Linked DNA regions of Homo sapiens. The protein of the gene in region 2 interacts with the protein of the main gene of each other region in a pairwise test. Each region holds a gene or a part of one and is shown on either strand. Other genes may lie near its edges.

What was found. The genes of interacting proteins can lie anywhere in the genome.
Region 1: the proteins of SKIL (region 2) and COL4A2 interact in a two-hybrid assay, tested with the Homo sapiens proteins (one large-scale study listed by BioGRID and IntAct).

Annotation. Positions count from the first base shown.
Region 1 is NC_000013.11:110,488,220-110,493,061, reverse strand, and holds part of COL4A2 (collagen alpha-2(IV) chain preproprotein), read right to left. Parts: intron 3,618-4,842; coding exon 3,554-3,617; intron 3,352-3,553; coding exon 3,277-3,351; intron 1,830-3,276; coding exon 1,722-1,829; intron 993-1,721; coding exon 885-992; intron 1-884. UniProt on the Homo sapiens protein: Type IV collagen is the major structural component of glomerular basement membranes (GBM), forming a 'chicken-wire' meshwork together with laminins, proteoglycans and entactin/nidogen.
Region 2 is NC_000003.12:170,377,352-170,382,542, forward strand, and holds part of SKIL (ski-like protein), read left to right. Parts: intron 1-3,892; coding exon 3,893-3,990; intron 3,991-5,191. UniProt on the Homo sapiens protein: May have regulatory role in cell division or differentiation in response to extracellular signals.

The DNA.
Region 1 (4,842 bases), on a different chromosome or scaffold from region 2:
TTATTTCACCTGTGGGGGTGTCACTCATTGTTATTTCATGTGTGGGACAGCACAGGGGGTTCTGGGTGGGAGAAACCCTCAAGATAACTCAGATGTGTTTTGTTGGCTCTGAAACTGTCACCTGATACTGTCACCCATACAATCCTGCTAAAGCCCCACAAATAGGAAGCAGCTAAGCCACACGCTCAACTTACACGACATGTAAACTAAGCACTCTTATGTTACCTAGGAACACCATTGAACTGGAACACTGTCTTCATAGAATCTTTTTAACAGACTCACTAGGCCAGAAGGGGCCTGGGGAGTGACATGTCCCATGCCTCTTCTTGACGCCTCGCCACTGCTGTATGTTTGGTTTGTAAAAGCTGCTTGGAACAAATAGCCCGGTGTCATTTCCATTCCCTCTGGATTTCTGAGGGTAAATATTTCTAAAGCAGGACACAGCAAACAGGTGGCAATTCCTTCTGTTACATGGGCAGTGAGCATGGCAGGGTGGCCCGTCTCGGGGCTGTAAGGAGGCCCCGGGGGTGGCCCGTGCAGCACAGTGGTACACTGAGGCTGCTCCTGCACCCTGATCTTGCTGTGCGTCCCTGTGTGGCGATGACAAGTGGACCCTGAAGCCTCTCTGGGAGGCTTTCATTCATCCTTCTGGGAGGTGAAGCCCTGGGCAGATTTGTGCATCTGGCTTGATTCCCAGTTGCCTGGGGCGCCAGTATACCCTGTGCTGCTATGTTGGTGCAGACCACCGTAAGCCACAGCAGACCTGCCTTTGCTCTCGTATGGGCCTTAGAAGTCGCCCTGAGAGAGGCTGGCCTGCTCAGCGGTGCCTCCTGCACAGCCCACGACTCTGGGTCTGGGTGACCACGTGTTTTACGTGACCTTACCTGGTAAGCCCGGAGCTCCCGGCCAGCCATCATCTCCTTTGCCACCAGGCAGTCCAATCCGCCCCAGCTCTCCCTGCGACCCTGGAGGCCCAGTCAGCCCTGGAAAGCCTGGGGGTGAACACAGCATTAAGTCTGAGCACACAGGACACCTTGGGCGCTGTGTGGTGAGGTCCTGGCAGGAGGGGCAGCCGCTCTGGGAGGGGCCGAGGGCCGGAAGGGCCGCAGTGCCAGTTGGAGGAGAGATTAGAACTGTCCCTCAAGCTGGGGATGCAGGTGGTCTTAGACCCCACATACAAATTCAATAGGATTTGCTCAGCCTTGCCAGAGAGAAAATAGCGTGTAGTTTTAATTGTCGCCCTATTATCCAAATAGACGTCTGGAGAGGACCCTGAGGCAGTGCCTGGAGAGATGAGCCTCTTGGCATTCCCCGGTGCTGAGTAAACACAGAAAGCAGCAGCAGCAACAGCGTGGGAAGCCAGCCCACTGTCCGCTCTCCTTCTCTAACCTAGGATGTTCATAGGGGTTTCTGCATATTCAATGCAAGCAAAGGGATCCCTTACAAACCGTCGGCTTCTATATGAGAGACAGAGGCTCAACCGAAGAGGCACTTCTCATTCACCCCCATGCTTCTCTCCAATTCTCAGGTCTCCCCCCAGCCCAGGTGGTTGTTTCTCTCCATGCCATCAGCACTGAGGAAAGCTCCTAAGCTGGCAGCAGGCACGAGTGAGCTTCCAGGGTTGGGTGTGATTGGAGGAAATTGACAATGTTGACCGCCTTTGTTCTGGGGTCTCCGGAGGGCCTGCCTGAGGAAGGCTGTGTGGCTGCGGGAGATTTTACCTGTTTGTCCTTTAAGTCCAGGAGGGCCTTGGACTCCAGTCACGCCTGTTATCCCAGGGAAGCCGATGTCACCTTCTGTTCCCTTCTCTCCAAAGAATCCCTTCAGACCTGCAACCACAGACATGCTGCTTGGAACAAACAGACACCGCGCCCCTGTGGGTTCCCTGGAACCCCGGCTCTAGGATGTGCAGAACCACACTGCTGCTCCTTCAGGAATGGAGAGAGGCATCCAACCGTGCTCCTTCCTTAGCTGATTTTTAACCTACTTCCTCCCTCTGAGCCTGCACTAGCCAGCTTCCAAGGCAGCACCCATGTACCCATGCACCCCTCACTGTCTTAGGGAAAACAGGACACCCCCAGGGATGATGGGTACAGCTGGCCCCACCCTTCCATTGTGGGACCACAGCTCCGAAATACCGTCTTCTGGTGATGGATGCAGGGGAGGCTCCACTCCAAAGCCTTTCTGGGCCCAGAGTTTAACAAAAACCAAAATGTTCAAAGGTAACAGCAAAAATAATTCTTGGGTGGGGGTAGCGTCTCTTCCCTGACACATTTTCAGTTGAACAAGTGAAGGCATCATTAGAGACGCGTGGTAATGATGGTCCACGTTTCTGTGTTTATAAACCAAATGGCCGGACTAATGGCCTAGGGTGGCAGACACAGCCAGCCCAGCGCCGGATGGCTCAGCAGTACAGAGCTCCCGTCACTCAGGAGGAAGCCACCGGGAGCCCAGGTCACAGATAACAAAGGAGCCCGGGAGGGCTGGTAAACAGAGGCGCCTATTTCCCAGCGGCGGTTCTCTGATCCTGTGCTCAACTGAACACGTCTTTCCATTCCAGAGCAATTTCTAGATAAAGAACTGGCCCAGCAGTCTCCCCACTGGCCAACCCTGGACAGACTCCTTCCCTCCCACCAGGGCCAGCCCTGCAAGCCCCTGGGGCTCCAGCAACTTGAGCAGTGTGGGGTCCCCCCAAAAGAAAATCCCCAGAAAGAAGAAAACTATCACAGTCCCCTTGAGACGTCACTGCAGGCAGGAATTTAGGAGTGGAACCTCAGTGATGTGCAGAAGGGAAGGGAGGCACTGTGCCGCCCCAGGCCCCCACAACTCGCTCGGGCTGGTCAGCTGCCTCCATATCTCTCTCAAGCGATGGCCTGACTCCCACTCCCCCTTTCCTGGACCCTTCGCTGTTTCTGAGAAGCTCGGGTCAGCGACCACCTGCTGCACGCCCTCAGGTGTTCCGGGAGTCAGGGTGCTAGCTGGCTTTTCATCAGTTACACTTTATGGACTGCAGTGATTCTCATCCACCGAGGGTCCATTCTGGCTTTTTTCAGTATCAAAGAGAGAGACAGAGAGAGAGAAAGACTTCCTGATTTTATCTTCAGATTTAACTTAATTAAAAACGACGGTCTTTCTTGCACATTGGACTTGAAGACCTCATTCACTATCAAGTGCTTTCTGGTTGTTACTGAATTTGATCTGTTTGGCAAGTCGGGCTCCTAGACAAAGGCTCAGGGCTGTTGTTGAAGATGAAGACAAGGAAAATAACTTGCGTACCTGGTATTCCAGTGGTGCCCCGCTCCCCCTTCAGGCCTGGTCTTCCTGGTAAATTTATAGTGTCCCCGATGTCACCTGTTACATGCAAAAAAGACGGCTAAGAACAGGACTTTCCACTGGGACTTTGTGAGTTTTGCAACTTCTATTTTGTTATATTCCTAACAAGAATAATTTGTTTTAAAATACCTAACAGCACTTGCAGGTCTGAAATTGGCTCACATGCTCAGAGAGCTCTGAATTGTGGACTCCCTGTTTTCACTGGACGGGCAACACTCACCGAAATCACCAGTCGCGCCAATCTCGCCATACAGGCCTGCTCTCCCTGGGGCACCTTTGTCACCCTAAAGACAGACATGAACCATCTTAGAAGGCTGTTAGCGAAGTCAGTTGTAACTCTGAAGTTAGCTCACTTATTTAACTATCCAGTATGCTAACGACAATACTCAAGGTTTGTGATCTTGTCATTTTGTGGAAAACTCGTGTTTTTTAGTGTGTATCATAGGCGGTTTGCTTAGCTGTTCTTTTTGTTTATTTATTTATTTATTTCTTTGAGACAGGATCGCAGTCTGTCACCCTGGCTGGAGTGCAGAAGCACAATCATAGCTCAATGTTGCCTTGATTTCCTGGGCTCAAGTCATCCTTCCGTCTCAGCCTCCTGTGCAGCTGGGATTACAGGTGTGAGCCACTAAGCCTGGCTGCTAATAGTTTTTAAATTTTTAGTAGAGATGGGCTCTTGCTCTGTTGCCCAGGCTGGTCTTGAACTCCTGGGTTCAAGTGATTCTCTCTCCTCTGCTTCCCAAAGTGCTGGGATTACAGGCGTGAGCCACTGCACCTGGCCTTGCTGTTCTTATGGAACTGTGAAGTGATACAATGAAACAAGCTTGGCAACTGCATCATAATGAAGAGCATCAGTGGCCCAGGTCTCCATCACGACAGTGTGGTGATGTCAGCGGCGGCGGTGACTCTGACTACATCCTCGCTCCACCATGCTTTCCCGCGTGCACATGGTGGACCCCGTCTCAAGAGCGTATTCACGCCTCATGAAAACCCTGCCAGGCAGGCACCGTTACTTCCCAATGACAGGCAAAGGAACTGAAGCACAGAAAGGTTTTGCTTAAGGTCACTCAGCCAGCAAGTGGCAGAACCGGGATTTCAGTTTGGGCAGCCAGACTGCAGAGCTTGCTCTCTGCAGATTATAACACAGATATGGGGCTGTGCGCCTCCATCTGTGCACAGAGGGAGACTTCTCCAGAAAGACACAGGTGGCTGGTAAGGAAATTGAGAAGATGCCTGAGTTGCTCGGTGGCTTCCTGGAAGCCCTAGTTTTCCCCTCCAGAGTGGCTTCCTCCCCAGAGGGAGCATGAGAGTTCTGGTCTACCTGGGTGCCACTGGGACTTTAGTACTACAGCATCAATGTACAAGCATGGCCTAACATGAGTCGCTGCAGTATTAATATAGCTAGGCCGGGGGTGGTGGCTCAGGCCTAGAATCCCAGCACTTTGGGAGGCCGAGGTGGGTGGACTGCCTGAGGTCAGGAGTTCAAGACCAGCCTGGCCAACATGGTGA
Region 2 (5,191 bases):
CCTCCTAAAGTGCTGGGATTATAGGCATGAGCCACTGTGCCCAGGCCTTTTTTTTTTTTTTTAATTCCACATTTACATATCATGTAGAGACCTTCACTGAATATTCAACTCTTAAATCTTTTAAAAATATTAATTTTTTTCTTATAATTTTGAGGTCTTATTAGTATTTCAAATTCATTGCTCAATAATTCTTTTTTTTTTTTTTTTTTTTTTTTGAGACAGAGTCTCACTCTGTCACCCAGGCTGGAGTGCAGTGGCACGATCTCGGCTCACTGCAACCTCCGCCCTCTGAGTTCAAGCGATTCTCCTGCCTCAGCCTCCTGAGTAGCTGGGATTACAGGCGCCTGCTGCCGCACCCGACTAATTTTTTTTTTTTGTATTTTTAGTAGAGACGGGGTTTCACCATCTTGGCCAGGCTGGTCTTGAACTCCTGATCTCGTGATCCACCCGCCTTGGCCTCCCAAAGTGCTGGGATTACAGGTGTGAGCCACTGTGCCTGGCCTAATTCTTAACAAAAATAAAGATCTCCCACATACATATTTTTTTCTTTTTTTATTTTTGAGACAGAGTCTTGCTCTGTCACCCAGGCTGGAGTGCAATGGCGCCGTCTCGGCTCACTGCAATCTCCACCTCCCAGGTTCAAGCGATTCTCCTGCCTCAGCCTCCTGAGTAGCTAGGATTACAGGTGCGTACCACCACACCTGGCTAATTTTTGTATTTTTAGTAAGACAGGGTTTCACTATATTGGCCAGGCTGGCCTTGAACTCCTGACCTCGTGATTTGCCTGCCTTGGCCTCCCAAAGTGCTGGGATTACAGGCGTGAGCCACTGTGCCCTGCCTATTTTTGTCCTTTAGTTGGCCCTAAGTCATCTCCTGACTGATCAGATTTTAAGATACATATTCTAAGAGCGGTTTCCTTTCTGTTTTCAGCCTGTTTTGTTGAGGGCAGTGGGTTACTTGTCAGATCTCTCCCAGGTTTCTTCATTCTCATTGATTTCCTCCATTAGTAGGATCTCAGTAATCAAACCAGAGTTTGGATAGTTTAGAGTTGATTTTGTTTTAATCACTACTGCTTAACATCCAGAGATCTGTTTGCAGTCCTTAGTTTCTTGGTTCCAAACTGGAATATTGGGACATCAGGCAAAACAGCTTTGCTACTTTCCTAATTTGTTGAATTGGGAATTGGACTCTCTCTCTCTCTCTTTTTTTTTTTTTTTGGAGACAAAGTCTTGCTCTGTCACCCAGGTTGGAGTGCAGTGGCGCGAACTCAGCTCACTGCAACCTCTGCCTCCCGGATTCAAGTGATTCTCCTGCCTCGGCCACCCAAGTAGGTGGGATTACAGGCACTCACCACCATGTCCAGCTAATTTTTGTAGAAACGGCGTTTCTCCATGTTGGCCAGGCTGGTCTCAAACTCCTGACTTCAGGTGATCCACCTCCCTCAGCCTCCCAAAGTTACAGGCATGAGCTGCTGCACCCGACCAGAATTGGAGCTTCTTTTATTTATTTATTTATTTATTTATTTATTTATTTTTTTTATCTTGAGATGGATTCTGGCTCAGTTGCCCAGGCTGGAGTGCGGTGGTGCAATCTCGGCTTACTGCAGCCTCCGCCTCCTGGGTTCAAGTGAGTCTCCTGCCTCAGCCTCCCGAGTAGCTGGGATTACAAGTGCGTACCACCATGCCCAGCTAATTTTTGTATTTTTAGTAGAGACTGGGTTTCGCTGTGTTGGCCAGGCTGGTCTTGCTCCTGACCTCAGGTGATCCACCCTTCTCGTACCACCACGCCCAGCTAATTTTTGTATTTTTAGTAGAGACTGGGTTTCGCTATGTTGGCCAGGCTGGTCTTGCTCCTGACCTCAGGTGATCCACCCTTCTCGGCCTCCCAAAATGCTAGGATTACAGGCATGAGCCACTGCGCCTGGCCATGGAACCTCTTAAAGGTAGGGTTTAGAGAAATATCCAGCTCTCTTTTTTGTTTTTTCCCTTGTTTAACTCGTTCCTAATCGCATTCTCCCTCAGTTTCCTGGGTTTGTCTGTTAACTTCCTATTTTTGTTGGTCACCTTAACCATGCCACATTTCAGCTCTCCTTTCCTTCTTTCCCCTTTCCCTTACCAGTGAGTCTTGCCCCCCCTTTTAAGTATCCTTTTCCCACAAAAGCAAGGTAATTTCGTATAATAGGAAATATGTAGGGGATGAAGGGAGGACAAAGTGTAAATAAAGTAAACCAAAATAAGGGAGAAGTTAGTAACCACAGATCATTTATTCTTTTTTTCTCTTCAATTTCTTTTTTTGTTTTGTTTTGTTTTTTGAGACGATTCTTGCTCTGTTGCCCAGGCTGGAGTGCAGTGGCATGATCTTGGCTCACTGCACCCTCCATCTCCTGGGTTCAAGTGATTCTCCTGTCTCAGCCTCCCGAGTAGCTGGGATTACAGGAGCGCACCACCATGCCTCGTTAAGTTTTGCGTTTTTAATAGAGATGGGGTTTTGCCACGTTGGCCATGCTGGTCTCGAACTCCTGACCTCAGGTGATCCACCCACCTCGGCCTCCCACAGTGCTGGAATTACAGGTGTGAGCCACTGAACCGAGCCCCTCTTCAATTTCTGAACGTCAGTTGTTTTCTCATCTGTAAAATGGTAATGATACCTATTTAATGGGGGATATTTGTTAGAATTAAGAATGATGTATAAAGTTCTCAGCCCGTAGATGTTCATTAAGTTACCAGTTACCTTTCTCCTTATTTTTCTTTATTTTTAGTTATAGCTCATCTTTAAGTATTAAAAAATCCTTTTTATATTTATTAGGAAATATAGTTTAATGACAAGTGTTAGCAAACTATGTGGTTTTGGATTTAATTTGGCAAAGTATTGCTGTAGAATGGTATCTAGCTAATATGCTAACAAATACTGTAGGGATAGGGTATAGTCTAGCCGATTGTAGTACAGGAATAAGAATCAATTTTCCAGTGCTATACCTTTATAGAGTTCTATTATTTAAAATGGATTTCTGGCCAGGCTCAGTGGCTCATGCCTGTAATCCCTGCACTTTGGGAGGCTGAGGAGCAGGGATCACCTGAGGTCAGGAGTTTGAGATCAGCCTGGCCAACATGGCAAAACCCAATCTCTACTAAGAATACAAAAAATTAGCTGGGTGTGGTGGTGGGTGCCTGTAATCCCAGCTACTCAGGATACTGAAGCAGAGAATCGCTTGAACCCGGGAGGTGGAGGTTGCAGTGAGCCAAGATCGCGCCACTGCACTCCAGCCTGGGTGACAGAGCGAGACTCCATCTCAAAAAAAAAAAAAAAATAAATAAATAAAATAGATTTCGTAAGTATGAAATTTGATGCAGTCATTTCTGGTACTCCATGTTAGCATGCATACTGAAACTGTTCTTGTGATGGGATAGTTCATGTGGGTGTCTCTGAGTTTCAGGTGATAATCAGGCTTCTTCAAGGGAAGACTGCCTTATTGGAAGATGACTCTTGAGACAGGGTCTCACTCTTGCCCAGGATAGAGTGCAGTGGTGCAATCATGGTTCAATCATGGTTCACTGCAAGCCTCAACTTCCTGGGCTCAAGGGATTCTCCCACCTCAGTCTCCCAAGTAGCTGGGACCACAGATGTACACCACTGCAACTGGCTAATTTTTTTTTTTTTTTTTTTAAAGAGACTGGGTCTTCCTATGTTGCCCAGGCTGACTCCACGGCTTAAGGAATCTTCCCCACTCTGCCTCCCAAAGTGCTGGGAATACAGGTGTGAACCACTGTGCGTGGCATGATGACTCTTAAATAATGTTAGTTGTCTTTACCCAGTGGCCCAGTCAGGTTGACACATAAAATTAACCTTCACAGTTTTACTTCAATAAATGTTTCCCTTCCATGTTTTTCTGCAGACAGATGCACCATCAGGAATGGAATTACAGTCATGGTATCCTGTTATAAAGCAGGAAGGTGACCATGTTTCTCAGACACATTCATTTTTACACCCCAGGTGAGTTGGTATTTATTTGTTCGTTTGTTCATTCATTTCTTCATTCAACAACTATATGCCATGCACTATTCTAGGACATGGGAATTTAATTATTTATTTATTTTTTTTGGTGGCAGAGTCTTGCTCTGTTACCCAGGCTGGAGTGCAGTGGCGCGATCTCGTCTCATTGCAACCTCCGCCTCACGGGTTCAAGCGATTCTCCTGCCTCAGCCTCCCGAGTAGCGGGGACTACAGGCTCACACCACCACGCCCTCCTAATTTTTTTAGTTTTAGTATAGATGGGGTTTCACAGTGTTGGCCAGGCTGGTCTCGAACTCCTGACCTCAAGTGATCTGCCTGCCTCAGCCTCCCAAAGTGCTGGGATTACAGGTGTGAGCCACTGTGCCTGACCACGAATTTATTTCTTTATTTTCAGGCTTTCTTGTTAATCATAGATTATCTTTGAAAATTCAAAATTAGGCTGGGCGCGGTGGCTCATGCCTGTAATCCCAGCACTTTGGGAGGCCGAGGTGGGTGGATCATGAGGTCAGGAGATCGAGACCATCCTGGCTAACACAGTGAAACCCTGTCTCTACTAAAAATGCAAAAAAATTAGCCGGGCCTGGTGGCGGGCACCTGTAGTCCCAGCTACTCGGGAGGCTGAGGCAGGAGAATTGCTTGAACCTGGGAGGCAGAGCTTGCAGTGAGCCGAGATCGCGTCATTGCACTCCAGCCTAGGCGACAGAGCAAAACTGTCTCAAAAAAAAAGAAAAAAAGAAAATTCAAAATTATTTTTAAATAAGTACATTGGTATTTAATGTATTTTTTGTTTCTATTTATCATTATAGGGAAATGGTAGGTGAATTGTATTGTTACTCTTATTAGAAAAAATTTCAAAGAAAGAATCTGAAATGAAATGAATTGTAAATTGCACTGAATATTTGAAATAACCTTTACTATGTGTTTCTATGTGTTTTCTAGAAATAGGTCATTTTCTTTTTGCCCTCAAGTAAAAAATGGAAGTTCTCCTTTAATTTCTTACTTTTCTTCAAGAGGTAAACAAACTCTTCAAGAATTTGGTGTGCAACTTTGATTTTTTTTTTTTTTTTTTTGAGACAAAGTCTCACTGTGTTACCCAGACTGGAGTGCAGTGGCAGGATCTTGGCTCACTGCAACCTCTGCCTCCCAGGTTCAAGCAGTTCTCTTGTCATGGCATCCTGTA